Linked DNA regions of Homo sapiens: all the other regions are linked to region 1. Evidence: fine-mapped expression QTL. A gene starts in region 1. Each other region holds a variant in brackets. All regions are shown on one strand. Distances are from middle to middle.

Region 1 (10,839 bases):
TCACCTCTAGCCAGAAAAGGAACTCAGGCTTCCTCACTGTGCTCTCTTTGCCACCTGTGAATTACTGAAGCTTTCTGGGTACCAATGGCCCATGCCTAGGAAGTCTAGTTGCCTCTAGACCAGACCAGTGATCCGGGAGGCTCCTCCCTTCCCAGTCAGGTACAGATTACCTATTCCACTTCTCCCTGCCGCCCTCCCACCCCTGACACCCCTGTGTCTGCAGGCACAGCTCAGCAGGGGGTACAATTACCATCTGTGTCACTGGCATCTTTACAGAGGCATATTTAAGTCGCTGCAGCACTCACAGGAGAAAGCAAGTAAATACACAGCCCAGCAAAGTGCCGAACCCAGCCTCAGATCTGCCTGCATGGAGCAGGCATCGAATACTTCTCAGCACTATGCGGGGAAAAAGCAAAGCAAAGAAAGAAGAAACTGCATCTCCACTTTGGAGATGTTGCCAAAGTTTCTCTCCATCTCTGAATGATGCTTTTTCAGATGAGGCAGTGTCCAGAGGAGCAAAAGGCAACCTTCACAGGTGAGACAGTCAAGCCCGTGTCACCTTGTGGGCCAACATCTTGGTGGAGCATACAGCCAAGCTGCATGGGTAAAGGAGATTACTGAGGTGCCTCTGGGTGTCGATGGAGCACCTGCTTCCTCATCCCACCACGGTCCCTGGCAGGGGCACGCGGTGCAGTGAGCCATCCGCACTCATCCTCTGGGTCTCCCTGGTGGCCAGTAGAATCCAATGGACTGGATACAGGGATCAGTCTGTGACCAGAGCAAGGGGAAGCAGCCTCTTGAATTCTTGGGAAGAAACATGACGACTGTGGGAAGCCTTCTTGGGTTTATTAAAAATATGTCATGCTAGGCACATCATGTTTTTAAAAACACAATTATTTATTTAATAAATATTTAGTAAGTATGCCTATGTACCAAGAATTCAACTTGGCACCAAGGATAAAGTTCTGAATGTGATAGTAAGTTCCCGGGCCATATTAGAGCTTAAATTCTAGCAGTGGGGGCTGTGAGGGTTGGGAAGGAGACAACAGATCATAAACCAACAAACACACAAAGAGATGATAGGGCAATGTTCCATGAAGACTGGAAACTGGACAGTGAGGTGGATGCTTTAGCCAGAATGACAGGGCAGGCTCTGGGGCGGTGGCATGTGGAGGAAGAGAACGTATCACAAGCTTGGTGGCTCAGTAGAACATTGCACATGTGGCATTTCTGGATTTTAGCAAAGCTTTGGGGAAAACCCCTTCTTGTAATATTTACTAAAATGTGTTATGTGCGTATTCCATGGCAAATGTTGTTTTGCTTCACACTCAACAGACATTTTATTTGGTCCTTACAAGCACTCCCATAAAGGAGGCATTTTCTCTGATTTGCAGATGACAGTGTTGAGGCCCAGAGAGATTGTGACTTGGTCAAGGCGAGAGAGATATGAGCCCCACGCCCGGCCCTCACCCCCACGTGGGCTTGTCACCCCCATGCCTATGACTAGTCAGGCTGCCTTTGTCAACATGACATAGAAGTGTAGGATGGCTGATGACTCATAACTGGTTGAATGACCATTTCCACGGCTGATGATGACTAGATGACCACCGTGAAGGGAGCTCATCATAGTGGTGGCTCAAGCGTGGTCCACAGCCCTGCCTTGTCCACTGGTGCCAGTGGCCTGAATGGGGGTTCAGTGGCTAGTCGGGGTTCAGTGGCCAGTCACAGTTCAGCCTCCTCTCCAACCACCTCTGACCTTGCACCAGCTAGTGCAAAGTCACTGGCAGTTTCTGTGACAGCCTGTGTGTTTCACACTTCCCTGCCTTTGCAAAGGATGCCCCCCACCCTTGTCTGGAATGGCCCCTGCACCTGGTGACCCAGATGATGCCCACTTCTCCTCTAAAAGCCAGCTTACATGTCACCTCCTCCAGGAAGCCTTCCCTGAATTCCTCCACACTGAGGTTGCGAGTCATTTAGGTTCCAATGCTCGCTCTATCTATCTCTCTATCTATCTCTCTATCTATCTATCTATCTATCTATCATCACAGCTAGTTGCCATCCCAGCAGCCATCTACTAACATAGAAACAATTTTGATCAAGTGGGGATGCGCTCTGAGATGACTGGCCTATCCCCAGAGGATGAATTATAATTAGCCAAACCCATTCCTCCTTGGCCAGGTATTGGCTGAGGGGTACTCACAGGGTTCACTTCTGGCCAATGGGCCTTGCCAGAAGGAGGATCTGGCAAAAGTTTCCTTATCCAGTGAAAAAAGAAACTTGTGGGAAGAAGTGTCCCTTTCTTTCTTGCCTTAGGGTATTGTCATTTGGGGAAGTCACGAACAGCGCTTCAGTTGTCATTTTGCAGTCATGAGGGGGCGGTCCAGGGAGCACAGAGAGGCCACCACAGATTCTGACATCATTGAGTGACTGAATCACCCAACCTTGGAACTGCCTACCTCCAGGCGTCTTGCTGTCTGAGATCATAAACCCTTTGCTTGACACCACTTTTACTTTGCTATTTGTTACTTGAGGCTGCAGGCATCCTGACTGATACAGCAGAGCTCTCTCTTTGTGGTATGTTTTCACTTTGGTCTGTTTTCTCGTCCAGTTCTTCACACTGGAAACTCCTGCAGGGGACCGGTTCTTTTTTATCAAAGACTCTCCAGTGTTCAACACAAAATCTAACACACAATGGGTGCCTTGCTTAGTAAATACATGAAAAGATGGGTGGCTGGAAGGAAGGAAGAATAAGCTATCAGATGACGTGAAGTAAGGAGGTGATGTAAATACCTAGGATCCAATAGTTGAGGTCTGCAAAGAGAGGAGCGGATGACTCAAGAGCGAAACACAGAGAGATGGGATTGATGTGACATCAGACCTGTCTGATTCTTAGTCCCAGACTCCTGGGGGGTGGGGGGATACATTTCTCAGCAGTAAATGGACATATGATGGCAGCATTGTGGGACCAATTGCTTTTGGGACAGGGATGGTATACAAGTTACTATGAAACAGTCCCAACTATGTGGAGAGAAGAGCTGAGGGACAAGGAGTTGGACTGTGATTAGGAGTGACTCTGTTATCAGTCCTCCCTATCACTTCTTACTGGTCACCATCACTAGAAAGAAGGGCTTTGTCCTGACACTGAAATACTCCTGGCCGTGTTGACTCCCAAGCCCTTCTCAATTACTTCCTGGGTTCTTTCATGCGCCTCCTTCCTCAACCTCCCTCCCTAGAGTCAGTAGTTGACTCTAGCTTCTACCCACACAGGGGCTGTATGGTGTTCCCCTGGTGGGGTGCTTTGCAGGGCAGGTGCAGCGTGACATCGAGCACAGATGGCATGGATACCCAGCAGCCTTTTGCTTTTTCTTCTTGAGTCACCTCCTTCCCTGGTGGCAGCCACATCAACTCTTCTGCTTGATTATTCTGTACCAAGTGTCTGCTGCTGCAGATGGACACTTCTGAATAGCAGCTGCCGGGAAATGTCTGGCTTCCCAGAGGAGCTGGGCTTGAATTCCCCTGGGCTCAACTGGCTGTGAGCCTTTTGTGATCACCCACCTGAAAGCCTCATCTGTCAAATGGGCACATGAAGGCATCTATAGACTTATCAGTTTTAAGTGGGACAATGGGTACGAGAGGGCCAGGGCTGGCTTCATGGGTATGAGATCTGTGAAAGGCTCTGAATTCTGTGCTCAGAAGGGACCCGTACTGGTTTAATATCCTCCTTTTATCTCTCGAAATTCTTGATAGTGTTTTAAAAGGGGGCTCCATTTTTATTTTAGGCCCTTCAAATTATGTAGCTGGTCATGGAGAGGGCTTTGCAAACCAAACAGCATTGCGAGACTGCACAGTGGGTTGCTGTTATAAATCGTAACGACACACACATTCACATTCTGTAAAGGATATATATGTGAAGGGGGCTTTTCTGCAAGGTTGGGACTCTGAGGCAGCACAGAATTCGTCTCTCACTTACTGTATCCTCTTCCTGGGCTTAAGGATATTAAATCCAGGTGCCCCAAGACCTTCAGAGCATTCTGCCTTCATGCGGATGGTGCAGACTCTGTTCTAATTCTGCACTTGGCCAGACATAGCTATGCAAACTGCAGCGAGTCTCTTCCCGCTCTGGGCGCCACCTGACTGACCCGCGTAAGGAGGGACTGTGACTGGTCCCCAGGCAAACGCTTTCCCTGCCACCTGCACCTGTTGCAAGCCAGCTCCTCGGAGCCAGGCCAAGCAGCTCTGCCCCTAGCGGGAGTCGGAGGCATGAAACTCCCTTTTAGGAAGACGGAGTAAGAGGCACCACCACCTGCTCCTGCTGCCTCTGCTGTCCTCAGCTTCTGGGAGCATCTTAGCAGCCAGCTCCGGGTGAGGACAGGGTCCACCGGTGCACATGGCAGAGCAGGGCAGATGCTGTGACTTGGCGGCTTTGGGGGAACAGGGTGGGGCTCCTCCCTGGGAAAAATCTTTAGGTTTGGATCCAGCCTTTATTTAAAGAGGGGGATTGTGTATAGACTTGTGTGACTGTTCAGCCTCTTTCCACCTCGGTGCGTGTGTGTGTGTGTGTGTGTGTGTGTGTGTGTGTGTGTGAGAGAGAGAGAGAGAGAGAGAGCCTGTGGGTCAATGCCCAGTATGCCCCTCTGAGAGTGTGTCTGTTAGTAGACACCAGTGTGTGACATTGCTTCTGTGGGCAACTATGTCAAGGCGTGGGTTTGTCACTGTGTGCGGTGTGGAGCAGTATGATAAGCCGGCGGCCGACCCCCGAGTGTGTAGACGCGGGAGCTGGTGTCAGGGTATTTGTAGGGCTGCAATTCTGTGTAGGTCTGTCTCAGATTGTGTGAGAGTGTCTGTGTTCCAGCAGGTGCTTGTTTCTGAGTGTGAATGTGTGTGAAGCTGTGACCGTCTGTCTCTAGCTCTGCATGGGACGGTGATCCGGTGTGTGTGTGTGTGTGTGTGTGTGTGCGTGCGTGTGTGGTGTGTGTGTGTATTAGAGTGCACTCTAAACTGTGTGGCTGTGTGTGTACGTGTGCGTGCCTGTCACAGTGGCCCAGTCTGCTTCTGGGTGAGTGGGGCAGAGCCCAGAGAGTGTGTGTGTGAGTGTGGGTGTCGGTGTCTCTGGGAAGCAGTGATTCGGGATGTGTGTGTCAGGCAGTGTGCGGCTGTCGCTGTGAGTCTGCATGGGAGAGTGGCGGCGTGCTCTCCTCTGCGCGGCAGTGCCCCGTGTGTTTGTGGGTCTGTGTCTGGGTGTGAGCGTCATGGTGCGTGTGTTAGAGCCCGTGGGGCCCCGGTGAAAGGCTGTGGCTCTGGGTGACTGGTGTGTGTGTGTGTGTGTGTGTGTATCAGAGTGGGTGGCGGCGTCTCTGCTCGGCAGTGGCGCGTGTGGCCCGCCCCGCGCGCGTGTTCTCGCGGGCCGGGGCAGGGCGTGGGCCCCCTCCGGCGGAGCCGCGACCCCTCCCCCGGGCGGCGGGAGGTGCGCACCGGCGCCTCTAGGACCCGGCGGCGGCCGGCCGCTGTCCCCGGGCCGCGCGAGTGAGCATGTGCAGAGCCCGGCGCCCGCTCGCCCGCCCGCTGCCCGCCCCGGCTCCGCGCCCGCCCGCCCGCCCCGCCGTTCAGCCCGGACGCCAGCAGCCCCGGGGAGCCAGGCGGCGGCGCCCTGTGCCCGGGCGCGTGGGTCCGCTTGCCGCGGGCGGCCGGAGACGTGCGGGCGCCGGGGCTTCTGGGCTCCGGGCACTGCGGGGGGCTGCGGGCTCGGCGCCCGGGGAAGGCGGGCCATGGGCGCGGGTGCGGGCGCCCCAGCCGGCCGCGATCGCGGGGTGAGTCCTGTCTCTCGGCGCTCCAGCCGGACCCCCGCGCGGGCTGCGAGCAGGGTGTTCCCCTTGCCGCGGGCAAACAAGTTTGTGCAGACGCGGTTGGGAGCGCGGCGGGGCTGCACCTGCTCCGGCTGCAGGGCGGGCTTGCCGGGGGCACCTTCCCGGGGGCCCGGGGCGGCTCGGCCGGGGCAGGGGAGAGTGAGCGGGTGCGTGCAGGGGTTGTGGGGGGGCGGGGGCGGCGCTCGGCGCGGCCGGGATGGGGTGGGGGTGCGCGAGGCGCCGCACGAGCCGCGTCCCCCTCCGGAGTCCTGAGAGCCCGTCCGTCACCCGGGAGGGCGCTGCGGTTGGTCCCGGGGAGGGGGCGAGGGCAGGGTGTGGGGTGCGCACAGCTTCCCTCCTAGGCGGCGACGTTTACCCAGAAGCAGCTCCCTCTCGTTCCGCTACCAAGAGAGGCTTCCGGTCAGCGGAGGGTTTGCTCCGTCTCTTGGTGAACTTGAACAGAGGCAGAGGCAAAAGCAAAACGTATGTATTTTGTCCAGAAAATTACCTAGTGTAGAGCTTTGCGTCTTCGTAGGTGTGGACGGAGACTCACGACTGAAGGTTGCTAAATTGCGTTTTTCTTGGCTACTCAGGAGCGTACGTACCTGGCTGGGTCCCCTGCCTCCGGGTAACCTCGCTGGTGGTTTTCCTGAGCATTTGTGCGCCTGGGATGATGCCTGCTCTGCTGATCGGGAATGCGGGTGGGGAAGGGGACCGCTCTTCCTTCCGCTGAGCAGTGGGAAGGCTCATATAGGAGTTCTAGCCTCATAGCCCTGCACTGGGATCCAGCTGCTCCCCACACTGGCCCTGCCCCTGCAGCTCCCAAGATGGACAGATGCAGGACTCCGCTGTACTTTTCTAACATGAGATACCCGCATCCCTCTTGTTGCTGGAACAGCATGCTTAGGTTTATGGAGGCACTTGGTTTATCCCACTTTGGCATCAGGAGTGGGGGCCTTTCTTTTTTCCTCTGATTTGCCTAGGTTGTCAGGCACAGAAAGTGAGGGTGGTGGGGAGTGAAAGTTACAGGAGATATAAAGCTGGCTTGCCCTGCGCTGTTTGCAATCACCCACTCCTGGTGGCTGCAGGTGCTGGGGAGAGAGCTAGGGGAGGTTTCCTTGGGCTATGGGAGAATGAGGTTTGTCTCTCTCAATCATGCCCCCACCCCCACACACTTAGATTGGCCCTCAGGAGATCCTCCGGGAAGGGGCCTCAACCGGCTGCCAGAGCTCAGGGTTTCTAGGAGGAAGAGCAGGAGCTCTCCCAGGCATGGGATCTGAAGGAGGCTTGGCGGTGGTTGGGCTGGTGGCTGAGCCTGACTGCCTCATCTTCTCCGCCAGAAGGCTCTCACCTGTGGCTGCATCCTCCAGGCCTCAGCAGGGCCATTTCCACAGCTCCTCTGTAAAAATGCCTTCTTCTGGGGTGAGGGGATCCCTCTCTTCAGTGGGCATTGTGCCCTATGGGGTACTGCCCTGTGGCCTGTGGCATGTCTGGTTGGAAGTGAAGAGAAGCTGGGATAAGGCAGAAGGCCAGACTCCTGTCTCTTCCTCCTGTCTTCCTAACCGAGCAGAAGTGGATATTCAGTGCCACTAGTGGGTCTGCTGCTGAAGCTTGAGCCTCCAACCTGATCAGTTTGGCCAGAGCACTGGGGAATGAGTCACAGAGCTGGTTCCTTATGGCATCAGCCTGAGCAGGCGACTCAGAGCCTCTGAATCCAGAGCCTCCAGGCCCTGATGGAACCCCTCCGAGCAGGGCCTCTAGGGAAGTGGTGTTTCTCATTATAGAAGCTCCAAGCTTGTACTCCCATCCAGCTCAGACCCCCATCAGCCTTGGTGAGACCAGCTCCCTGACTCTTTCTCTGGAGGTACAATGAGGTCAAGGCCAAGGACTTTGGGGCAGCTCAGTGTTTAGACCTTCAGGGCCTTAGGCCTTAAAATGCAGGTGATAATCATATACACTAGCAGGGCCAGAGCTGGGCCCTAACATCCAGGGCTGCTCATCTGGGGAATGAGGGAATGAATGTGGCTTTCCGCTCACCACCTTCTCCCTGGGCCTCCTGGTCTGGCCTTCACATTCTTCCTTTAATCTCTCCTCATCATGGCTTTGACAATCGTGCTGACATACGGCCTGAAAAATTATCGGAAGTGTGCCACTTGGAGAATGTGGTCAGGGAGGAACTCTGCATATGCCCTGCCTCCTGGTGTGGATGTGAGAAGTGGATGGAAGAATGGGCTGGATTCATTTCATCAGCTATGAAATACAGTGCACCTGCTGGTAGCTGTTAAGGCCCCTCCCCTTCACTTCGCTTCCCTTCCTTTGCTGCCGGAAGCCCCTGGAGATGTGAGCTCCCTTCTAGAGAGTGGCTCCCTTGACATGAGGGGGTCGAGAGTATTCTGAGGACAAGGATGTGCAGCAGGCTGTCTTGGCCTCTCTCCCATAGCCCGAGTGCCCAGTGGCAGCATCAAGTTGGGCAGGTCTGACTTTGGTTGGGCACTCCACTCACTTGTCCACCTGTATCCAACTCACTCCGTGGGGTTTCAACACCTGTTTACCTTCCAGATTCTGGGATGGGCTTGAGACGACCCTTAAGCTTTCAGCACCAGGTGGAAGAAACACATGAATAAGTAAACAAAATAAGATTCTATAAAAGAGATAGCCCAGGCCAGGCGTGGTGGCTCACACCTGTAATTCTGGTGTTTTGGAAGCCAAGGTGGGCAGATCACCTGAGTCCAGGAGTTTGAGACCAGCCTGGCAAACATGGCAAAACCCCATCTCTACTAAAAATACAAAAATTAGCTGGGCATGGTGGTGTGTGCCTGTAATCCCAGCTACTAGGGAGGCTGAGGCAGGAAAATCGCTTGAACCCAGGAGGCGGAGGTTGCGGTGAGCCAAGATCATGCCACTACATTCTAGCTTGGGCGACAGAGCGAGACTCCTTCTTGAAAAATAAATAAAAATAAAAGAGATAACCCAGAGATAGGCTGGAAAAGGTTGCGACTGGCTGTTTCAAAAGTGAGAAAGGCTCCAAATCAGGCACCAGGAAAGGAAAAATGCCGGCCCCGGCGCTGGTGCTGTGTCTTTCTGTGTGGACCCAGCCTCCAGCATGGTGCTTGGAAGGATCTCTGTCCTTGGTATTGCACACATGAAGACCATGTGATATGGCTGGTGATGATATGCTCTGGAATCAGAGCGACTTAGCAATAGCCGTTTGTATTTGTTCAAGTTAATTGGCCTTCTCTGTCTCAGATTCTGCATCTGTATGATGGGGACGATAATGATTTTGGCCTCACAGATTTGTGGGAAGATCACTCATTCATTTGTTCATCTGATCATTCATCCAATGCACTTGACAGTTGGTGAAAGTACCTGGAACTCTAATATGGTATGTTAAATTTTTTATTTATATGAACCCCAACAGTGGGTTAATTGAAGAGGTTTCCCTCCTTTGTGTGGAATGGAGTTTTGACCTATTATGTTTTATACCCTTTTAGCAACATATTAAAATTTTGAATCTTTTTTCAAGCTCTGAAGTTCAAACTCTCAAGAGATTTGCCTCATCAAAGACAGGGATCCCACCCCATTTGCATTTCCCAGACCTTGTTCCCCCAAAGGGCCCAACAGATTTTTGTTTAGTGGGTCTCTTGCTTTTTCTCAGTCTCCAAGACCCAGAGTTGTTAGGCCTGTCAGTAATGGCAGCATGGCCCTGAGCATCGAAGGATGTCCAGTCCAGCAGGCACTTATTTTCAGGGGCATTCCCTGTGCCCCACCCAGAGGTGGGCAGAGGCACTGACTGTGCCTTTGACAGGCCTACAGGCTGGAAGGAGAGGTAGGGACATTAGCAGGGAACCCTGACTCAAGACCACACACTACCCAGGCACAGTTTGTAGCAGCAGCCTTGCTGCTTAGTGCCTAGCACTGAGGAGTGGTTCTGCTCCAGAGATCAGGGAGGCTTCATGGAAGAGGAGGCATGGGAGCTGAACCTTGATGGCCTGAAGCATTTCAGAGCCGTGAGATGGGGCACAAGCATCCCTGGCTGGTGGAAGGGCATGCGTGAGGGTGCTTGACGCCTCTCTCGCTAACCAGGTGATGCTCTGGTGGGATACAGGGCTTGCTTGTCAATCCCTGGGAAGCCATTACAGGCTGTGGCATCATTAGCTCCTCATATTAGAAAGATCACTTTCTTAGATGGAAAGGGGACAGTCTTTTGGAGAGGGGATGGGGTACAGAAGCCAGGCGCTATGCCTGAGCGGGGTAGGGGCAGGGGCAAGGGGAAAGTCACAGGAGGGGAATCCAGGAGCTGTGAGCCCAGCTGGAGGCTCCTGCATGTACTCTGCCCGGGTCCTGAAGCTGAGACCCCCTGGCTGCCAGTCACTGAGGCTGAGGCTTCGAGCTTCTAGGACCCAGATGCCCATCACCTTGTCTAGAGAGCAACGTTCTGGGCCCTATTCTTGTCGCTGGGGCTCCTGCCCTGCAAAGAGCAGGCAGCTCCAAGTCCCAAGAGGTTTGCAGCCCTTGCTGCAGCTGCCACAGTAGCTGAGATCCTTCTGGGGATGTCTGGTGTCATTTTCCCTTCAGCTGCCTCTGCCTGTTCTCTCTGACCGGGGGTCACGGGGAGGTTGAGTCATCTGACTGAACCCCAGTGGCCACTGGCTGCACCTGGGCCAGCTCCGAGTTCTATCTTGCAGCCCCCAGCCCCAGGGACTGCCTCCTCTCCTCTCCCTGCTGCCACCCCTCAGTCTCTGGACCCCTAGCCTGGCTGAGAAGTGGCCACCTGACCAGCCCAAGCCACCCATCATTCAGGCTGGGCAGTTGCTGCTCCCTCGGTCCCAGATGGCAACAAAGTAATAGACAAAAGCTCAGGTTGTCTGAATATCCAGGTGCTCTGGGCTCCTGCTCCCTCCCTGAGACTTCCAGAAGCCCATTTGTTCTGTTACTCTCTTCTCATGCTTGACAGGGAACTCAGAATCTCCCTCCCCAGGCCCTGCTCTTCTGTAGG
Region 2 (10,839 bases), 67 kb after region 1:
AAGGACAGCAGATGGAAATAAGCCAGAGCCACCTTCAACTACTTTCACTCGTTTAAAAAGCCACATTCTGCTCTGTGTCACTGCTATTTTTCTGGGTCCCATTTTGACACCTCTTGCTTCTCTGAATCCCATAAATCACTGAGAAAGTCCTTCTTAGGGTCACCAGTCCTTCGATGTGGAGAATGAAGCAATTCCAAAGGGACCCTGCCTGGGGTCTGGGGAACTCGGGCTCTACAACTGACCCTACCTCTAACTGGCCATGCATCTTTGGAAGACTCTTATCATTTTCCCTGAGAACTATCACTCAAACAGGGCAGTAGAGCTGACATCTGGGTTTGACTTCATGACCTTGTCTCCTTGGCCAGAGCTCACGGGACTGCTGGGGCCCCTGACCAGAGCTGGGCAATTGGATTCTCCTTTTGGTCACTTGGGCTTGGGCCTGGGAGACCCCTGTCTGTCTGCTAGCTGCGCAAAATGAAGACACAGGAATGTGGGGCCCATGGAGCATAGATGTGGGCACGCAGACGATCGCTGCAAAGAGACCAATGAATGGCATCATTGTGCTGAGAGATGGAGATCTGAGAAGAAAATAACCCAGAGAGAGGCTGAAATAGGATCTGTTCAAGTGAATATTAAAATGGTAACCAATACCCAAGACAAAAATTGTGCACCTAATCAAATCAGTTCTTTCATTTGTCTGCATTGCCTTCTTCTCCCTTTTCCTGCTAATTTTTTACCTGTATGAATGCATGATGTAATAGATAGAACCTTTTCTTTTTTATTTAACATTATATCATGAATATTTTTCCATTTTTCTGTAGTCTTTTTTTTTTTTTTTTTTTTTTGAGGCAGGGTCTTGCTTTGCCACCCAGGCTGGAGTGCAGTGGTGCGATCTTGGCTCGCTGCAACCTCCACCTTCTGGGCTCAGGTGATCCTCTTTCTCAGCCTCCCGACTAGCTGGGACTGCAGGCGTGTGCCAACACTCCCAGCTAATTTTTTTTTTTGAGATGGAATCTTGCTTTGTCGCCCAGGCTGGAGTGCAGTGGCCGGATCTTGGCTCATTGCAACCTCCGCCTCCCAGGTTCAAGTGATTCTCTTGCTTCGGTCTCCCAAGTAGCTGGGATTATAGGCATGGACTGCCATGCCCAGCTAATTTTCATATTTTTAGTAGAGATGGGGTTTCACCATGTCGGCCAGGCTGGTCTCAAACTCCCGACCACAGGTGACCTGCCCACCTCGGCCTCCCAAAGTGCTGGGATTACAGGCGTGAGCCACTGCCCCTAGCCAAATTTTGGCATTTTTAGTACAGACCATGTTGGCCAGGCTAGTCTCAAACTCCTGACCTCAACTGATCCTCCCACCTCAGCCTCCCAAAGTGCTGGTGTTACAGGTGTGAGCCACTGTGCCCGGCCTATAGTTTTTGTATCTTATTTTTCCCCAATTCTTCTCCTTTTCCTACTTTCCCGTTCAGCCCCCTGATATAGTAACCAGTGACAGCCTGGTAGTATCCATTCACACCATTATCACACCATTCACATATAAATATATAAAAGCGTATGTGTATATATCTATATTTCTGTCTGTGTCTATATGTCTATAGATATAGATATAAAAATTTGGGGGCCATCATTTGTTTTTGCAAAAATGTAATAAAATGATTTTTCTGTGTTTTCTATTCAATTTGCCCTTAAATGATGCAAAACGTTCATTCCTTTGAAGGCAAATCTAATATTCTCTAGTTGGGAATCTCCAGAATGAGGTGTATACACTGTACCGGCACAAGGAAAACATATGAAAAATTTTATCTCTATTTATTTTGATCTCTTCTCTTTAAAATTTCTATTTTCTGTTTGTTTATCCTACACTTAAGGTATTCACACATGCAAATAAATATCCATCTTTTGGAAGTGCATGCTATCATCAAATGAGCAATCAGAAATGCTTAGAGACCACTAGTCTACAGAATCAGGGAACAACTTATTCACACATTTCCCTTTTGATGGATATCCAGGCTGTTCTTAGACGCTGCAGCAGGTACCACTACAAACTATGCTTTGACAAGCATTACTCTACACAGATATTTACATACTAGTGCTTTTTTATTTTTATTTATTTTATTTTTTTTGAGATGGAGTCTCGCTCTGTCGCCCAGGCTGGAGTGCAGTGGCGTGATCTCCACTCACTGCAACCTCCGCCTCCTGGATTCAAGCGATTCTCCTGCCTAGGCCTCCTGAGTAGCTGGGATTACAGGCACCCGCCAGCATGCCTGGCTAATTTCTGTATTTTTAGTAGAGACGGGGTTTCACCATATCAGGCTGGTCTCGAACTCCTGGCCTCGTGATCTGTCTGCCTTGGCCTCCCAAAGTGCTGGGATTGCAGACATGAGCCACCATGTCCGGCCGTGCTTTTTGTTCTATAGGACAGATTCCCAGAAGTACAATTCCTGATTCAAAGGGTTTGTCTAGTTTTAATTTTAACTGATATGGGTGGTCTGCTCTCCACATTGTCTGTAGCAATTCATGTCCCCGCCACCAGCAATGTATGAAACACTTATTTCCTGCATCTGTAAAGATTTTAAGAGTTATTACTCTTTTCAACTTTTGCCAATCTGATCAGAGGGGTGAGAAATGGCGTTCAGGCCACCTTCATGTATAAGCAAAGGCATCGGATCAGACAACCTCTAGGATTGTTCTAGCTCAAGTGTCCATATTTCTCAAATTATTTTTTTTCATAACTTATCTGTTAGCAGGTGTGTGCTTAGCCCCCATTCACTGACTGTTTGCAAATCCCAGAGACATCTTTGAAAAAATTGCCAGAAACCAACACATCAAGAACTGGAAAGAAAGAAAGTTGAATAGAGTCCAGAAAATCATCTTGCCAATACTGTTTAGCTTGTAAAAACCATCTAAGCCAAATCCCTGCGATTTCATCCAGAACAAATAATAAAAAAGCAGTGTGTAATATTTCTAAGATGAGCATATTCATAGTAAATATTTTAAGATCCATGGCTGCACAAAATGCATTTTCCTTGGAGGTTCACTTTTCAAATGGCTTCGTATTAAAAGTGCCATTTCAACAAATATTCATGGGGAAATTCATCGATGTGTTTTACCATTTATAGCTAAAATTTCAAAGGACTTAGGAAAAAAAGGTATGATGCATATCCTACCCTCTTCGGAGAAGTGGTGAAAAATACGTGCTATGCTTTGGTTTTCTCTGACTGTAAAACTCCCAGGCAAGTATCTACACTTTTCATTCCCACTCTTCTCTGGCTATTCCTGGGGTGGATGGCAGCCTGGTCAGAGGACAATCAGCAAGGACTAAGGGAGGAAGGGGAAGTGAGAGGTTAGGAAAGCCTAGGCGCCAAGCCTCTCCAAAGTCTCCGGAGCTCTTCCAACAGCTACCATCTGGTGAGCATTTAATGCACACACAGCAGCTTGACAGAAACACTCTATATTCTCTCACTGCAACCTCACTATCACCCTGTGAAGTAGTTATTATTATTATTGAGATGGAGTTTCGCTCTTGTAATCCAGGCTGGAGTGCAATGGTACAATCTCAGCTCACTGCAACCTCCACCTCCCAGGTTCAAGCGATTCTCCTGCCTCAGCCTCCTGAATAGCTGGGATTACACGCACCCCACTACCATGCCCAGCTACATTTTTTTGTATGTTTAGTAGAGACAGGGTTTCACCATGTTGGACAGGCTGGTCTCGAACTCCTGAACTCAGGTGATCCACCCGCCTTGGCCTACCAAAGTGCTGGGATTACAGGCATGAACCACCGCGCCTGGCCAATAGTTACCATTATTATCCTGTTTTGCAGATAAGAAAATGGGGCCTCAGAAAAGTCAAGCGATTTGTCCCTGAGGTCACACAACTAGTTAACAGGTAGAAAGGGGATGCAGACTCAGGACTATCTAGCTCCAACTTGCTATATTATTAGTCCCTCTGTGCCTCAGTTTCCCTTCTATAGCTTCCCCAGATCTCAAGGAGCCCACTGGGGCTGTAGAGATCGAAGGAAGTTTGGTATATGGTGCTAAATGCTTTCTTCATCTCCCCGGCCGCTTGGTCTCCGGTAAGCACGATTTGGCTGCCTGCTCTGGACATGAGGCATCCCACGGCCCCTGTGACATCATCCTTCTTGGCCCCTTTGCCTCCGGCAGGAAGCAAACCCCCACAGACAAAGAATTGAAAATCTGGTCACTTATTCCAGCCAATATTTCTCAGTCTTAGGTAGGCATATTCATTTTTATAATGGCAAGTTTTACCCTCGGTAATGATCAGATCCAATCCTTCTCTTGTTTGAGTTGCTGAAACCACTCACCATGGCCCAGGAGAATAAAACCCACAGGCTCCACTTGGCTTGGCACTCAAAGCCCTCTGCAACCTGCCCACATAACCATCATTTTGCATGGATGCAGTCTTGCATTGATGCTTCAGCCACTCCACATGGTACCTCTTCCACCTGCCTAGTATGTCTTTCTTCCCCTTCTCTGACTATTCAAATCTTAAATATCGTTCAAGGTCCAACTTGAATGAATCTGCCTCCTCCAGGGAGCATTCTCTGCTCTCCCAGGCTGAATGAATGGGCTTCTCCTCTGGAATCCCCACAGTTCCATTTCCACCATTCGGCTTCTAACCATCACTGGCATTTTTTCATATCTGCTTTTGCAACTGGCCTGTGAGCTCCTGTGGGGCAGTGGCAATGTTATTTACATCTGTTTCTACAGCACCAACTCATTATTTGGCTCAAAGTAATAATGACAGGCCAGGTGCAGTGGCTCACACCTGTAATCCCAGCACTTTGGGAGGCCAAGGCAGGCAGATCGATCACTTGAGGTCAGAAGTTTGTGACCAGCCTGGCCAACATGGTGAAATCCTGTCTCTACTAAAAATACAAAAAAAATTAGCCAGGTGTGGTGGCACACACCTGTAATCCCAGCTACTTGGGAGACTGAAGCAGGAGAATTGCTTGAATCCGGGCAGTGGAGGTTGCAGTGAGCTGAGATCGTGCTTTTGCACCCCAGAGTGGGCGACAGAGAGAGACTCCATCTCAAAAAAAAAAAAAAAAAAAAAAAAAAAAAAGGAATAGTGGCAATGACAACATCAATGGTAATAGGGTAATAGTTGCTATATTTATGGGGGGGTTAAAACATGACTTTGTTTAATCCTCAGACAATCTTATGAGGCAGGTACTATATTTACTCCTATTTAACAGGTAAGGAAAGGGGATTCAGAGAGGCCACGTGGAAATGGTGAAGCTGGGATTTGAGCCCAGGCTGCCTTGTTCCTCAGGTAACCACTCTGACCCACTGGCTTCTAAAGGTGCTCAGTAAATGTTTGTTGAATTAAAAAGCAAATGCATTCATGAACAAATGAGTAATAAGGAAAAAAAAGTCAGGCAACAGAGAAAAATCATCCACTCCATTGATGAAAGCAAGGCATTTCCTAGAACTCAAGCAATGATAGTGAGCATTCTCTTCCATCATCCAATCATTGCCCTCCCCTTGTTGGGGAAATCTCATGAACACATTTCACCAATGGGTGTCATTCCAAACCTACTCCTGAGGGATATGGAGGAGAATGTCTCATCCTTTTTAGTCCAGGACAATGCTTTGACTAACGTTCAGGAGGACAGGACCTTAGAGCTGTGCCCAGGCCAACAGGGATGAGTGGCTTGGGCTCATTATACTCCCAACATGATCTTCCTGGGACAAATATTGGTTCTAAGGCTGCTGCCCAGTATCAGAGAGCTGTACAGGCTGGAAATGTTTGGGGAGCAGAAGAAAGCCAGGTGCAATGTAGGAAACAGGAGAAAGGGCAGATGGTGAGCAGGCCACGTCCGTTTGGAGGCCAGGCTGCAGCTG[C/T]GGGAACCACAGGTGCTGGCAGAACTGAGGTTGCTGGTGCAGAAGGGAGGGGCCGCATCACCTGGGGCTTGGCCAGGGCCAACATGGAGACAGGGACTTGGCCCACCTGCCTGCTGGTGGTCACCTGTCTTGCTGGTGCTCAGAAGGAGGGGGCAAGCCCTGGAGCTTTCCCTGTCCTCCCTCCTCTGCACTTGCCCCACACAGGGAGAATTCTGGAGATAACACAGATACTCAGTGGCAGCTGAGTCATTCATGCACATATACATGTGCACAGCACATATAAACACACTTTCACACGTACATACGCACACATGCATACATGTACGTACACATGTGCAAACATAAACATGCATACACATGCTTCTGGTCTCACACATAAACACACACTTATACACGTGTGAACACACTTTCTCACACACGCACACAAACACATACGCTCATATGTACACACATTCACACATATACTCAATCACACATGCACACACACCCTTTTGGTCTCACACATAAACGCATACACACACATACCAGGCTCAGAAAATTTGTCAGGCTTCCAAGCACTTCAAAGCACAAGTCAATTGATGGATCTTGTTTCTGGAAAGAAATCAGCATGTCCTAAAGGCCTGGGAGCTGGATTCTTCCTTCTGAGATCTGAGAGCCGACATTAGCTCCTCAATCTCCATGTACATCCTTAATGGGTTTCTGGCCTTGTACACAATAGGAAAGTGGGCTTTGGGGCCAGGTGTCAGTCAGGGGCCAGAGAACAGAATTGCATGGCCAAAAGGAACACAAAGAAAGGAAAAAGGCCTTTCATGTGGAGGATTTAATTTCCAGTTAGGAAGATTGAAATAATTTTATACAGTGGTTTTGAAAACACATGAAAGAGTTTTCCTTTCTGAATTTGAGAGGCAGCTCTGGAGACTGTCACTGCCTCCTGGGTGCCCGAGAATCTGGTTCTCTTTCCAGATTTGCTGTGAACCAGTGCAGTCTCTGCCAGAACCTCAAGGGACAGCATGCCAGACGTTCCATTCAATTCAACTGAGTCCATCCATCCATTCATCCATCCAACTAACCATTCTTTGGACACCCAGCCTTCAACATTCATTCATTTCAACACCCAGCCTTCATCATTCATTCATGTAGTTCAGATCTCCTATCACCTGCTACGCACCTGCCTTTGGCCTGGCCTTGGGGTCCAGGTCCCTTGAAAGGACTTCCAGCTGTCCTCTTGATTATGGAAAGGATGGGATGCTGGTTACAGGGACTTATTCTTTTCTAATTCAAATGCAAAACAGAGGATAAACCCTCTCAGGTGTGAAACTCCCTTGGCTCCAGAACAATGCAGCAGTTAGTCCTGGGCCTGGCCCATGCCAGGTTCCCAGGAAAGCCCTGCTGATTCAGGATAACTGCTACCACCTGTTTCAATGCCCTTGAAGCTCTCCACACTTTTTATCTTTGAAAGTATTTCATTTAGGTTTCATAATGGAAGCAAGGCTGAATGATTATGTAACGGTGCTTTCTGCGACAAGTTTATGAGTATATTTTGAAGGCAGCAAACGTATGCCTATTAAGCATGGGGAGAATTATCAGTGAATGTTTTTAAATGACCAATAAAAATGAAATTATCATTGCTCATTGTTTTTTATGGATCATAATGTGTTTTTCTCTTATGGAAATATCCAAAAACTCCCCTCTTAGTCACCGGCCGCTAATTACATAGTTAGCACACAGTAATCCATGTAAGTGGGTTCTCGCCTGTCGTAATTCGTCTTCATAAATGTAATTGGCCCAATGAAACAGACCACAAAATAATTCTGCAGAGAGGAGATGGATTCAATAAAAACTGATTTTACTTTTCTTTTTCCAAAACTACAAACTTGGAATAGGAGTTTTTAAGAACATATAACTGTTTTTCCCCAGATTGCCACTCCTACCTCAATTTGTTTGTTATTCAACTATTTATTGATTTATTGAGGACCTGCTCTATTCAAATCATTGGCTCAATACTGGGGTTAAGTCAAAACTTGAAAGAAATTCCCGGCTGCAGGGAACTGGCCATCAAGTGAGGAAGTCTCCAAGCAGCAGGCAGAAACCATGGTGATGCAAGGTGGGTAGTAGTACATGCTCCAGAAGAGATTTGGAGAAAGGGCTAAAGGTGTTCAGAGGCAAAGTGGTTGCTTCCTCCTGGAAAATCAGGAAAGGCTTCATGGAAGAAGTGGTATTTGAGCTGAACTTTGAATGATGAAGGAAGGTGGAGCTAAGGCAACGGAGGTATGTTTGGTTAGATTAACCTGACAGTGATTATAGTGGAGTGCCGGCAGGTGAAAGGTAAGGGGAGATGGAGTGGAAAGGTAGGTGGATGGTTGTTATAGATGGAGAAGCACATTTTATACTTTTCAGCTCAAAGCTGTGCCCCCTCCCCTCTGCATATGCAATAAATAAATATTTATTAATATTAATATTATATTTAATATTTATCAATAGCAATATTATAAATATTATATAATAATATATTATATTAATAAATATTATATGTAATATTTTATATGAATTATACAAAATTAAAAATATGTAAATAAGAATAAAATATGTAAATATTACATAAATATAAATATTTACATAAACTATAAAATTATTTTATATATTTTTATGTAATTTTATATTATTTTATATTTTAAATTATATATATTAAAAATAATATAAAATTACATAAATATATAAAATAATATATCAATGATATGAATAATATGAAAATATATAAATATAAATATTTGCATTAATATATAAATATTATATATGTAGAATATTATATAGAGAGACTAATCCAATATAATATATATTGGATATAACTGGACACAATCAATACAGCATACCTACTGCTTGCCAGGTCCTGTGCCGGGGCTGGCTGGGTAGGAGACTTAGATGATTTAACACAAAGCCTACCCTCAGAAACTCAGAAGGGAGGTGGAAATGATGATGCGGTCAATACTGGCTTGAGCCTGTATCTCCATTTATTATTGTGAGATGGGGCGGTGGGGAGTGTCACTGTTCAAATGGGAGTGTCACTCTTCAAATATGGCAGTTTGTCCCAGACGAGCTCACTCTCCATATTCCATATTACAGCAGGCATTGTTAGTGTGAGGCTCTAGTTGCTTCCAAAGCAAAATATTTTTGGACCATTTACTGCCAAACGCTTCTTTTCTCTAGCTCAGTCGCCAACATTTTCCTCCTTGAAAATTTGAATGAGCCTCGAAAAGACACCGAGAAGAAATTCAGGGAGATAGGAGGAAAATGCAAATAAGAATTACAAGACAGAATTCAAGAGGATTGGGACTTTCAGGGAGGACATGATTGACAGTGTCACAGGCTACAGATGATCAAAGTAAGAGAAGGTCCCGTAAGCGTCCATTGGATTTAGCCTGGAAGAAATCACTGATGACCGGGTGAGAGCCAGGGAGCAGAGGTCAGAAGGCAGTAGGGTGAGGAGGGAGCTGGCCTGGGGTGGCTGGAGTTGCATAGGTGGTGCACGGATCTAGTCAACCTCCTCCACCCACACCTCCGCTTAGCTTGTGTGGTCTCTCCTCTCATCAGCAGACCTAATAGCACTCAGGAAATTATGTCTTTCTGCATGATTACAGAGTACATTATGTGCTACTGTGACACTTTTGCATTGCAGGATGTTTGTAGTGCCTTGGGATGACTCTACTGTGGTGGCTCTTGCCCTTTGTTTCGTGGGATTAAAACCCCGACTCAGTCACCTAGATGTAGCACGGATTCTCCCCCTTCTGTCTCCACCTCCAGCTCCTGCTTATCATCTCACTTATCCGTTTCCTCCTCTTTACCCCTATGGTTTCTTAGTGATAGACTGAATTTTTGTTTCCAACTCTTCACTACTTTGTAATAGAATTTTACTTGTACGCCGTTTCCATGGCCTCATGATCTATACAGTATACTTCCCCACTTCTTTACTTTTGAGTTGAAAATACGACTTGTTTGGGCTGACAATATGACTTGTTTGGTTCAATGAGATGTTAGTGAATGTGATGTAATCAGAGGCTTGAAATGTTCTGGTGCAATTTTTTTTTTCTTTCTGCACTGCAATGACCCACCGTGAAAAGTTCAGGTGCCAGGTAGATGCTGCCACCTCAGACTGCACCCCAAAAGAAACATGTAAAATGGACCTGAAGCTATCCTGTATCCTAGAGCCATGTCCAGTCAACCTGTAGCCTGAAGCAAAGCCACCCAGCTGAGACCAGTCTAGGTCAGCCATACTGTAATCAGCCTGCAAACCCATGATTATGAAAATAAATACTATTTTAAGCCACTGAATTTGGGGTTGGTTTGTTATGCAGCATTAGCATGATATCAGTACTGATCCTGACTTTGACCTAAGCACTCATGCTTGCTAGTTCAAATTCTCTACTCCATTCCTTTAAGCCCATCTTCCAGAGAGACTGTTAGACAACCTCAATCATCATTATAAACAAGGAAGACTGCCCTTTCAGGATTTTTCAATATTTCTTCCAGAATGTTTATTCCTTCATTTATTCATTTTTTTCAAACATTCAACAAATGACTACTTGTACTAAGCCTTAGGAAGGGCACTCGGGGGGAAAAATGGGTAACTATAATTTGAAACAAGACACATTCCATCTCTTTAAGTGAGTGCAAAAGAAGTGTGTGTAAATAATTACATCCCAAGGTGCCTGCTGTATTTCTTATCCTAAAGCAAACCAAGTGGAGGTAAAATCATCATTCTTGAAAATGCCCTTGTTTATACTTAAAGGCAATTATCTGTGGGTATTTAAAAATAAAATCTATAGTAATTACAAGCTTGCCTTTTTCTATTTCACATATCACATGAGCCAGTGAAGAAGCGGGATGCAAGACAGTCTTACCATATGTCAATATCAAATACGTTTTCTTTTAAAGCGTGCTTTGCGCATCCTTCTGGAAGATGGGGAATGAAATGC
Region 3 (10,839 bases), 30 kb before region 1:
CATGGTTCAGGAGAGAAATATGGAGACTTATACCAAGCCTGTGTCAGGAGGGATGATGTCCCCCTAGGGCAGATCAGAACACATCACACCCCTGCTCATATCCCTCCACTTCTGCCTCTCAAACATCCCATTTCTTGAAATGGAACTCCCATCTCAAATGGAACACTTGCCTAGCAGAGTTCTGCACTGCCTCTCATGTCTGTCTCCTTCTCCAGCCCCCTACCACTGTGGCTCAGAGTCCCTCTCCAATCTCCCCCAGGCAGTGACAGCCATCTTCCAATTGGCCACTGTGGCCAGAGCGGCCCATCAAAGCACAGCATTGACTCAGGAGCTCCCCAGCTCAGGGCCCCTGGTGGCTCCTACCTCTCCTTCATGATCAAGTCCATGCCTCTCACCTGGCCCTCAGCGCCTTTCACAGGTGGGGCCATCCTTCGGTTACATCTGCATCTCCCACTGCACCTGAGTGGATCCTGGCCCTCAAGTCAATGTAACCATCCTCTACTCCAGGAATATGGGTGCTTTCCCCCACTCCCACCTCACGCGAGCCTTCTGGAATGCCCCTGTGCCACCTCGGCCCTACTCTCCATCTCTTTACATGAAAAGATGACATTTGTTATTGCATTTTCTGGTTACTAAAATATTGTGAGCATATTGCCACTGTTAGGAAGACATTGAAAAGTATAGGAAGACAGTGAAGCTCTGCTGAAAGCCCATCTTGCAGAGACAGTCCCTGTGTAGAATTTGCTGTGGCTATTTCTCAGCCACATGCTCTGAAAATCCACTGCTGACAGCAGCCTCCAGCAGAGCTGGGAAAAATCAGGCCCCAGACAGGACACCAGGGTCGCTGTTTTGTGCCTCCTACAGATGTACGGGGCACCACATTACCTGCTCACAAAAGGTGTCTAACACACTGTAAGAAAGTGTATGCACCTCAGGGCTCTGAAAAAGGCAGCTCTATCTCAGTAGAGCAGTGTTGGGATTGTTAATGGCTGGAGAGGTGGCAGGTGGTGCAGAAGGCTGGGCTCAGGGCGCTTGTGGTGTGTGTGTCAGCCCCTGACTTCTCCCACCCTGCAGCTCCAGGCCCCACCATCCCCACTCTGTAGGTTCTCTTCTCTCTGCCCCAACTCTGGCAGCAAGCCAGGCAGCATGCCTTTAGTTCTGTCCAACAAACACTCTTCATGCTCAGCTCTGCGTTAGGAGACACTGGGGACACAGAGCAAGCCAATTATCCCTGTCCTGGAGGAGCTCACAGCCTGGTGGGTGAGGAGCAGCTGTCTCCCCAGGCTCTGATCCTCCACCAGGAGCTTCTGTAAGCTCTGAGGGTAAGCTCTGGACCACTGCATTTCCAAGCAGCCTCTGCCGCCTCCCGGCTCTCACCAGGTGCTTCCACTTTCCAGGCCCCTCACCGGGACAGCATCTTGCTCTGAACTCGGTTTGCGTGGCTGGCACTGCCAACCCTTCTTAGCACTAGTGGTACCTCCAAGCCAGAGAGTTGCAGCAGACCCTGTGAGTGGCAGACAAGCCTTCATGGGGAACTGTGGTCACAATCAAGAGGCAGAAGAGACAGGCTCCCCTCCATCCTCCCATCTTTGTGGCTCCAGGAACACAGAGAATTCCTCCAACATCTCTGCCCAGTTGTTTAAGGGCTCATGGCAGGGAGGTTAGACGTGTCAAAACAAGCCTACACAAAGTAACAAGCATTACAAAGAGAAACACAGGTGTCAAAGGAGTAGCTTTAACTTTGGAAAGGCAAAGAAAGTTCTTACAGATGGGGTAACATTCAAGCTGGGTTTTGAAGGAAGAGAAAGAATTTTACAAGTGACGAAGGAGAGAAGGGCATGTTCAGATGTTTATTCCAGAAAGATTCCCCCATGCTACTTAGCTCGAAGGAGGGACTGGACGAAGGTTCTGGGGAAGCAGGGAAACCAGCAAGGTGGCTGATATGACCCTCCAGCTGGAGATACACTGAAGCCAGCAGAGGATGGGCTTTGAAGGTGAGGGAGGCAGCAGACACTGGCTGGGTGGCTGGTAGCTCCTGGGCAAACGCTGACCTGGAGATCCTGCAGGCGGCCAGGACTCAACGCAGAGCCAGGGGGCCCGGGACTCCTGCTCTGAGCCCCACTGTGGTGGGTGGGGATATCTAGGCATTTGAAGGAATCTCAGCTGGTGGGAGGGCACCTTGTAAGTGATCTTAAGCAATGCAGTGCATCCTTTATTAAGAGAAACGGTGACACCTCTGCTGCTTGCTTTGGGTTTGTTTATCTGCATCCTGTCACCTCCCCCAAATGGGATATAACACAGAACTGCAATTATTTTGAAAACCCTAAATTGGCTTTTTTTTTGGCTAGGAAAATCTCACTTGATACAATTAATTCCTATCCTAGAGGAGCAGTTAGATATCTGATAGGAAGAGGAGTTGAGGGCGAGGTGGCTGCTCCCCTCAGTTCCTCTACTGTAATCCAGTTACTCCAACATTGATCAGGTGCTGCCATGCTTCGAGCAGGCGGCTGCAGAGCCCCACCCCCGGTGAGGACCCCCTCTGGGCCCTATTTGAGCTCACAGTCTAACTGGGAAACAGAAATAAGCTAATAAACCAATAACTAGTTCTGGTACGAAGTCGATTGAGCAGAGAGCCAGGGAATTTGAGGGAGAACTTTGAAGGATGGCTTCCTGGGGAAGGTAAGAGTAGATAGGGCTGGGCCTTGGGACAGGCCAGGCCCACGCAGAGTGACTGGGGAAAGGGACGGCCTGATCAAGGTTCAGAGGTGTGAAAGGAGGGAGTCTGTTCAGGAAACATGGGTAGATGGGTGTTGCATGGTGTAACTCAGGGTTCCCCAACCCCGAGGCCACAGACTGGTAGTTGTCTGTGGCCTGTTAGGAAGCAGGCTGCACCACTGGAGGTGAGTGGTGGGTAAGTGAGCAAAGCTTCCTCTGTCTTTTTTGTTTGTTTGTTTGCTTTTGTTGTTTTTGGAGGCTGAGTCTCGCTCTATTCCCCAGGCTGGAGTGCAGTGGCACGATCTCAGCTCACTGCAACCTCCGCCTCCTGAGTTCAAGCGATTCTCCAGCCTCAGCCTCCCAAGTAGCTGGGATTACAGGCACAGGCAACCAAGCCTGGCTAATTTTTGCTTTTTTTTTCATAGAGATGGGGTTTCGCCATGTTGGCCAGGCTGGTCTCGAACTCCTGACCTCTGGTGATCCACCTGCCTTGGCCTCCCAGAGTGCTGAGATTACACGCAGGAGCCACTGCACCTGGCCTGAAGGTTCAGATTTTAAAGAGCATGGCTAGAGAAGGCCCCGGTGAGAAAGTGACCAAGTGCACACCTACCTGAAGGAAGTGAGAAGGTGAGTTGTGTGGGTACCAGGCAAGGGGAACAATAGATGCAGGGACTTAAGCGGGCACATGCCAGAATGTCTAGGAAGAGCTGGCGGGCCAGTGTGGCCAGAGCGGGGAGGGCAAAGGGACAAGAAAGACAGCTCAGGGGCTCAAGGTGGGGCAGATTCCACCAGCCACTGCAGATCACTGTCAGGATCTGCCTTTTGCTCTGACTTACTCCGATGGGAGGGTTTTCTGCAGAAGAGTGACACAATCTGACTTACTTTTAAAAAGAGTCACTCTGGGCCGGGCGTGGTGGCTCATGCCTGTAATCCTAGCACTCTGGGAGGCTGAGGCGGGTGGATCACTTGAGGTCAGGAGTTCGAGACCAGCCTGGCCAACATGGTGAAACTCTGTGTCTACTAAAAATACAAAAATTAGCCGGGCATGGTGGTGGGTGCTTATAACCTTAGCTACTCAGGAGGCTGAGGCAGAATTGAACCCGGGAGGCAGAGGTTCCAGTGAGCCAAGGTCACACCACTGCACTCCAGCCTGGGCAACAGAGCAAGACCCTGTCTCAAAAAAAAAAAAAAAGTCACTCTGGTCACTATGAAAAACAGACTGCAGAGGTAAAAACAAGTTCAGAGGTGACTGCAATCATCCAGGGGCAAAGTCATGGTGGCTCCGCTTGGACCAGGTGTGGGGGCAGAGGGGGTGGTGAGAAGCGATCAGATCCTGGATAGAGTTTGAAAGTAGAGGTGAATAAATTTGCTGATGGCCCAGATATGAGATGAAAGACAAAGAGGAGTGAAGGATGACACCAAGCTCTTTGGTCTGAGCATCTGGAAAATGGAACGGCCATGCAGGGAGATAAGAATATCCGTGGCAAGGATCTGGCTTGGAGGCAAAGTGTAATGGGGACAGATGATGTGTAAGATGCTTGTTAGTCATACCGCTTCTCCCTACTTCATTGCTGTTACTTCTTCTGCTACCAGGTCATAACTCTCAGTTTTACCCTGTTTACCAAAACCCCCAATATGCTGTTCCCTTTGCACAAAATGTCCTTCTCATCCCATGCCCCCTCCAGCAAAGTCCTCAGTGAGGTGGCAGGTCCCCCTCCAGCGACCCCAGCCAGGTGAATGTATCATCTCTGACAGCCCCTTATTCCTTTTGAACAGGCTCTGTCTTATTGCTTTATAAGTTCTCTCTGGGCCTATTTGTCTCTTGAGACACTGAGCTCTTTGAGGGAGCCGTGCCTAATTTACATCTGGCATTAGGGCTGTTCCGTAGGGTGTGGAGGTTAAGAATAAGGACCACAGAGTCAAACAGAGCTATGTTGGAACCCCAGGTCTGCTACTTATTAATAAGCCACGGTCCTTAAGCAATTTAGTCAACTACTCCGAGCCTCAGTTTCACTAGCTGTAGAATGTCTTAGTCTATTTTGTGCTGCCATAACAGAAATACTTGAGACTGGGTAAGTTATGAAGAACGGAAATATTAATATATTCTCCCACAGTTCTGGGGGCTGAGAAGTCCAAGATCAAGGCCGTAGCATCTGGTGTGGGCCTTCTGACTGTGCCCTCACATGGTGGAAGGTGGAGGAGCAGGAGGGAATGAGCTCACTCCTGCAGGCCCTTTTTATAGCAGCATTAATCCATTCATGAGGGTGGAGCCCTCATGAACTGAACACCTCCCCAAACACTCCACCTCCTAACACCATTGCACTGGGGATTAAGTTTCCAACACATAGATTTTGGGGGACACATTCAGATGATAGCATGGATGATAATAGTCGCTTTGTCCTAGGATTATTTTGAGAAGTGTATAAAGTGCTTGGTGCTGGGCTTGGCATGTATTAATCCCTCATTAAATGCTCACATAACTTAATAATAAAAATAATAACACGTTTTTTTTTTTTTTTGAGACTGAGTCTTGCTTTATTGCCCAGGCTGGAGTGCAGTGGTAGAATCTCGGCTCACTGCAACCTCCATCTCCCCGGTTCAAGCAATTCTCATGTCTCAGCCTCCTGAGTAGCTGGGATTACAGGTGCCCACCCCTACACCAGGCTAATTTTTTTCTTTTTAGTAGAGATGGGGTTTCATCATGTTGGCCAGACTGGTCTCGAACTCCTGACCTCAAGAGATCTGCCTATCTCAGCCTCCCAAAGTGCTGGGATTACAGGTGTGAGCCACCGCACCCAGCCAATAATAAGTGTTCTTTATGAAGATTTGTGAGGGGCCAGTTTGGAGGGTTGGATGGAGGGCCAGGCAGGCCAGTGAGAAGGGAAGCTGAGCAATTGTCCAGGTGAGAATGGTGTGGCCAGGGCTAAGACAGGGGCGGGCAGATGACGTAAGGGCTGCTCTTGGGGTTGAGTAAGCAGGACTTGGTGACATTGGTCATCGGTGGTCGAGGAAGGGAGAAATTTTAGACAACCCAGGCTTGAGCTCTTTCTGAGCCAGCTTTGAAATTTTAAACCGCTGTGTTTTCTCACTTGGTCAAAGTCACTCAGCGCTGAGACTTCCCCCACTGCGGGCTCCAGGAGGCCTGACCTTTCAGCAGTATTTACAGTATCGACCAGCTAATTTTAGACACTAACACCAGCAGGATAATAGGGTAAAAGGCGACCTCACTGGAGCTGTTCTAGCCGGTGCGCTTCCCAAGATAGTGTCATTCATGGATGAAGCCGGGGTTCACTGGATGCCGACTTCGGGCCCAGCCTGGGCATCGGTGGTGTGTGTATAAATAACTTATCCTTGTTAAGTAAGTAAAGAGAAGGCGCCTTTTCCAAGGGGGTGGCCCCCAGCTTTCTGGTTCAGGCTGTTTTCTGGCTGGACAGTGTGCCTTCCCCACACCCCTTTAGCACCTTCCTGTTTCCCAGTGTGCTCTGACCTTCACCTCAGCAGCCCTTCCTCCAAGGCTCTTCTAAGGCTGGGCTCCCACCTTGGCAGGGTCTTCCTGGAGCAGAAGAGAGCCAGAGGTGGGACCACAGCATCCCTGGGGTGGCATTCCAGCAGTCACCAGGCCAGTTATTAGCTGTGGCCCTTAAGCAATTTGCTCAACTACTCCGAGCCTCAATTTCCCTGGCTGTAAAATGGCGATTGTCTTAGTGGAGCAAGTGGGAGAGACACTGGTGTAAGGGCAAGAGCTGGCTCCTTCCTTTTCCGAGAAGGGTTAACCCTCTAAGTAGCTCCTTGGAGCGCAGCAACACATGCTGTCCCCTTGACACCACCTCCAGGTCGAATGCCTCTGTCTCTGTGTTTGCTGGAAACCGTCCAGCACCGTCTGGCCCCGCTGTGAGCAGCCTGTCGAGCTGCATATGGCGGCTCCCCCATGG[C/T]GCTGCCACCGGCTTCTGTGTCGGGAACAGGCTGGAGCCTCCCGTCTGGGCTCGGACACCTTGTTCCTCTCCTCTACTATCCAAGGACTCATTCACCTTAAAGCAGTTGGGAAAAGAATGTCCTCTATGCAGGCTCTAAACCTCAAGGGGTGAAGGGCTGGCATGGCCATTTTTTTCTGGGGACAGGTTAATTCATGGAGAAACCCCCAGGGTTTTATTTCTCCCTGGACAACAACAAGATGAAGTCAGATAAACCACCTGTTCGTTTTGCATTGCTGTAAAGGAATACCTAAGGCTGGGTAATTTACAAAAAAAAAAAAAAAGAAAGAAAGAAAAGAAAAAAAGGCTTATTTTTGGCTCATGGTTCTACAGACTGAGCAAGAGGCATAGTGCTGGCATCTGCTTCTGGTGAGGCCTCAGGAAGCTTAAGATCGTCGTGGAAGGTAGAGCGGAGGAGGTGTGTCACATGGCCAGGGAAGGAGCAAGAGAGGGGGTAGGGAGGTCCCAGACTTTTTTCTTCTTTTGAGATGGAGTCTCACTCTGTCGCCCAGGCTGGAGTGCAATGGCACAATCTCAGCTCACTGCAACCTCCACCTCCCAGGTTCAAGCGACTCTCCTGCCTCAGCCTCCCAAGTAATCGGGATTACAGGTGCCTGCCACCATGCCCAGCTAATTTTTGTATTTTTAGTAGAGATGGGGTTTCACCATGTTGGCCAGGCTGGTCTTGAACTCCTGGCCTCTGGTGATCCACCTGCCTTGACCTCCCAAAGTGCTGGGATTTACAGGCGTGAGCTACTGCGCCCGGCCTCCCAGACTCTTTTTAACCGTCAGGTCTCTCGGTAAGTGATGAGCTTGGGAAGGGCACCAAGCCGTTCATGAGGGATCTGCCCCCATAACCCAAATGGCTCCCGTAAGGCCCCCCCTCCAACACTGGGGATCACATTTCAACCTGAGATTTACAGGGGACAAATATCCAAACCATATCCTCACCATTCCCAGATCTTGGCTTTGCCATTTATGTTCTCTCCTTCACCCTTCCCTGTAGGCGGTGGCTTTTAGTGTGAACCCTGAGAAGCCAGAGGGTGTAAGGACACCAGGAAGAAAGACAGGGTGGAAGAGCGCGGAGTGTTATCTATCAAGGCTGGGCTCATGGGCTCTCCTCTGTGAGGAGCACGGATGATCAAGGCAGGCATGGAAAAGCTGAGCACAGCGGAGCAGGGTTAGCAGGAGGCACTTCTGCTGGCAGGGTGGGCCAGCTGCTGGTGGCATTCTCATTATTAGCCACAACGACCCTAAACAACGCTCACATGCACTTAGGAGCACTTTGCAGCTTATAATGAATTTCTGTGGTCATTTCTTCATTGGAAACTTGCAAGAGGCACAGCAAGGAATTAATTAGTTAAAGCATTCATTTATTCAGTTATAGAGCCCTTATTGGATGCATAACGATGTGTTAGACTGTTAACTTACATCATCAGCCCCTTTACAAAGAGGAAACTGGAGCCCAAGGAGGTTAAAAAATCTCACCCTCAGTCTGGAAAGCTGGGATGGGCTTGAACTAACTACTCACCATTTATCTGTGCTTGGTGCCCAGGAAGCTCAGCTGCAGAGTTGAATCTGGCAGGTCCCTACTCTGAAGAGTCCACAGTTTCTGCTTCCCCTGGGTTCTGTGGGTGGAGCAGCTTAGAGAAGACCCAGGAGACGAAACTGGTCATCCATAGCAAGAAGACATGGACTTCCCAGATGATATTCACTAGGGGCAAAAGTAGGCAATGGTGGTGGGCAACTTGGGGGAATATAAGTTGTCTTTGCTTTGGGAGAGATTTCTAGACTCTTTCTTGGAGGCTTTCATTACTGATTGGGGAACAGTTTCTAGCACAAAAAGATTTAGTTCCAAGATATAATAAAACCACATTTAAAAATTCAGTGAACTTTGGAGCATCTAAAAGCTGAAGGAAAAGAGAACTTTCTGATAAAGTAACAATAATCCTGCTCAGAAAGCAGTTGCCATGGTTACGTACAAGTCTCTGGGGGTGTTTTTTATTTGGCAAGAGATGGTAAATGTTTTCCCAGGGTAAGTCCAACTGGCCACACTGGCCTGAGCGATGTGAGGGAGCCCTGGGGTCCAAGCCAAATACTCCTGTGGCAACTGGAACTGCTGCCCAAAGGATGGGCATAGCCAGGCAGAACCTGACACTCAGGAAGCCTTTCCTCTGCTCATTGCTCAAGGGAGCAGGGCAAATTGAGCCCCACATTCCAACAATAATCATTCAGTGACTATGAGGATGGCAGTCACAACCAGCTCCACTGACTGGGTGCTGGGCAGGTGCTAAGCTAAATGCTGTATGTGTCTTAGTTCAGGTGACCTTGACAATAGCCTCGTGAAGGAGGTATTATTCCCATGTTACAAATGAGTCAACCGAGTCTCGGAGAAGCTAAGACACTTGCTAGATATCACAGGAAATGGTGAAGCTGAAATTCCAATGCAGGTCACCTGGACACCAAAGTCCAGAGGATGGGGTATAAACCCTGTTTTTCTTTTTTCTTTTTTTTTTTTTCTTTTTCTTTTTTTCAGATGGAGTCTCATTCTGTCCCCAGGCTGGAGTGCAGTGGCACAATCTGGGCCCACTGCAACCTCTGCCTCTCGGGTTCAAGTGATTCTCCTGTCTCAGCCTCCCGAGTAGCTGGGATTACAGGCACCCGTCACCACCCCTGGCTAATTTTTATATTTTTAGTAGAGACAGGGTTTCACCATGTTGGCCAGGATGGTCTCAATCTCCTGACCTCGTGATCTGCCCATCTTGGCCTCCTGTTTATAACTAAAAGTACAGAACTTTGAGGCAGCCCTTCCTCTGCCTCATCTCTTCCCAGTAGCATCTTACTAGTGTCCTTCTCCTAAGGTGAGGCTAAGCATTATTCGCCAGCCAGTGATATCTCTGTCCCTCTCCTGGTTCACCTGGGCACTTCAAGATGCCTCGCCAAATGCCCGGCTTGTATCTCAGTACTCCATTCCAAGTATTTTCCGCCAATGAGCCACCTGGAAAAATACGATCTCAGTTGGCAGCAGAGTGAGGATGTGAGCTCAGGCTCCTTTTGACTCTCCTGTTTGAGGGACCACCAGATCTGCCTCTGGGGTGGTGGCCCTGGGAGCACCAACACAGAATGCCAGTCCCTGCCTTCAAGGTGCTTACAGTCTGCAGGGGGAAATACACAGGCAGTTACAAGGCCCTCATGGTTTCTCTTGTGATACAGGGAGTCATGGGAAGCTATGGGACCTAGAGGCCATGAATCAGCTTTACCTTGCAGGCAAGAAAAGTGTTACAAAGAGTGTAGTAGCCTTCGGTTTGGGAAAAGAAAAGTGCCGAAAAGAATTAATACAGTAATACAGCAAGCTTGAAGCTTCTATCTTTAGAAGAGCTTGCTTGCAAGGTAGGCCCTTGGCTGGAGTCATAGAACTTGGCTTTTGAAACATCCTTTAACTGCTAAAGTTGCTTTGCTTTGCCTGGACTCTTTGCACAATGTGTTTTATGTATTTTCCTTATGGGAGTATGAAATGTTGGTAGTTGCTAGGCAAAGAGTGCCTATGTGATCAACTCCCAATTACAAACAAAACAAAACAAAAAACGCACCCTAAACTCCGAGTCTCAAACAGGCTTTCCCAGGCTGAAACTTTACATACATGTTGCTGCAATTTTTGCTGCTGGAGAAAAAAGCATGCTCAGCATGTCCCTTCCTCAGTGTGTCATGGGAGGGAGAGGAAGCCTGTGCTTGGGTTTCTCCAGAGTCCGTCTGATGTCTTTTGCCTGCATAGATCTTGTTGTGTTTTCTTTTACTGCAATAAACTACAGCCGTGAAGTCAATTATGCTGAGACCCGTGATTTCTTCTAGTGACCCAGTGATCATGTGGGTGGTCTTAGGCCCCCTAAAATAGAAAAGATGAATGAGATTTTAATGGGAAGAACAGGAAGAGAGGGGATTCCAGGTATAGGAAACAGCATATGCAAACTCATAGAAGCATGAAAGCGTGTGGTTTGGGCAAGGAATGGTGTGGCCTGCAGCTAACTAAAGGGAGGTGCTGACGAACTTGAAAAAGTTCAGAGGAACTGGGCTGTGAGGTGCGTGAGTGCTAGGCCAAGGGATCTAGATTTTATCTTATGAGCAATGGGAAACATTGGGTATACTTAAAGAGAGA

Alleles and levels. Positions count from the first base shown, and alleles are read on the strand shown. Sizes are in standard deviations (SD) of each study's normalised expression. Not every link is listed here.
For the expression in cerebellum of the gene that starts at base 5,534 in region 1, allele C in region 2 goes with a higher level than allele T (moderate effect, 0.67 SD a copy in GTEx).

The links.
Region 2: its variant is fine-mapped to the expression of WSCD1 in cerebellum (GTEx, PIP above 0.99). The same link has a PIP of 0.9 or more in cerebellar hemisphere.
Region 3: its variant is fine-mapped to the expression of WSCD1 in cerebellar hemisphere (GTEx, PIP above 0.99). The same link has a PIP of 0.9 or more in cerebellum.

What each region holds. Positions count from the first base shown.
Region 1 is chr17:6,064,846-6,075,684 of GRCh38, forward strand. It overlaps WSCD1 (WSC domain containing 1), which reads left to right and starts at 5,534. Exons shown (of 9, transcript NM_015253.2): 1 at 5,534-5,807. RefSeq lists an enhancer at 4,770-5,601.
Region 2 is chr17:6,132,071-6,142,909 of GRCh38, forward strand. No RefSeq gene overlaps it. Among named protein-coding and RNA genes, the nearest start is that of WSCD1, 67 kb to the left of the region's middle. RefSeq lists enhancers at 3,381-3,882, 7,073-7,627. The variant C/T (reference allele first, on the strand shown) is at 5,870.
Region 3 is chr17:6,034,833-6,045,671 of GRCh38, forward strand. No RefSeq gene overlaps it. Among named protein-coding and RNA genes, the nearest start is that of WSCD1, 30 kb to the right of the region's middle. The variant C/T (reference allele first, on the strand shown) is at 6,648.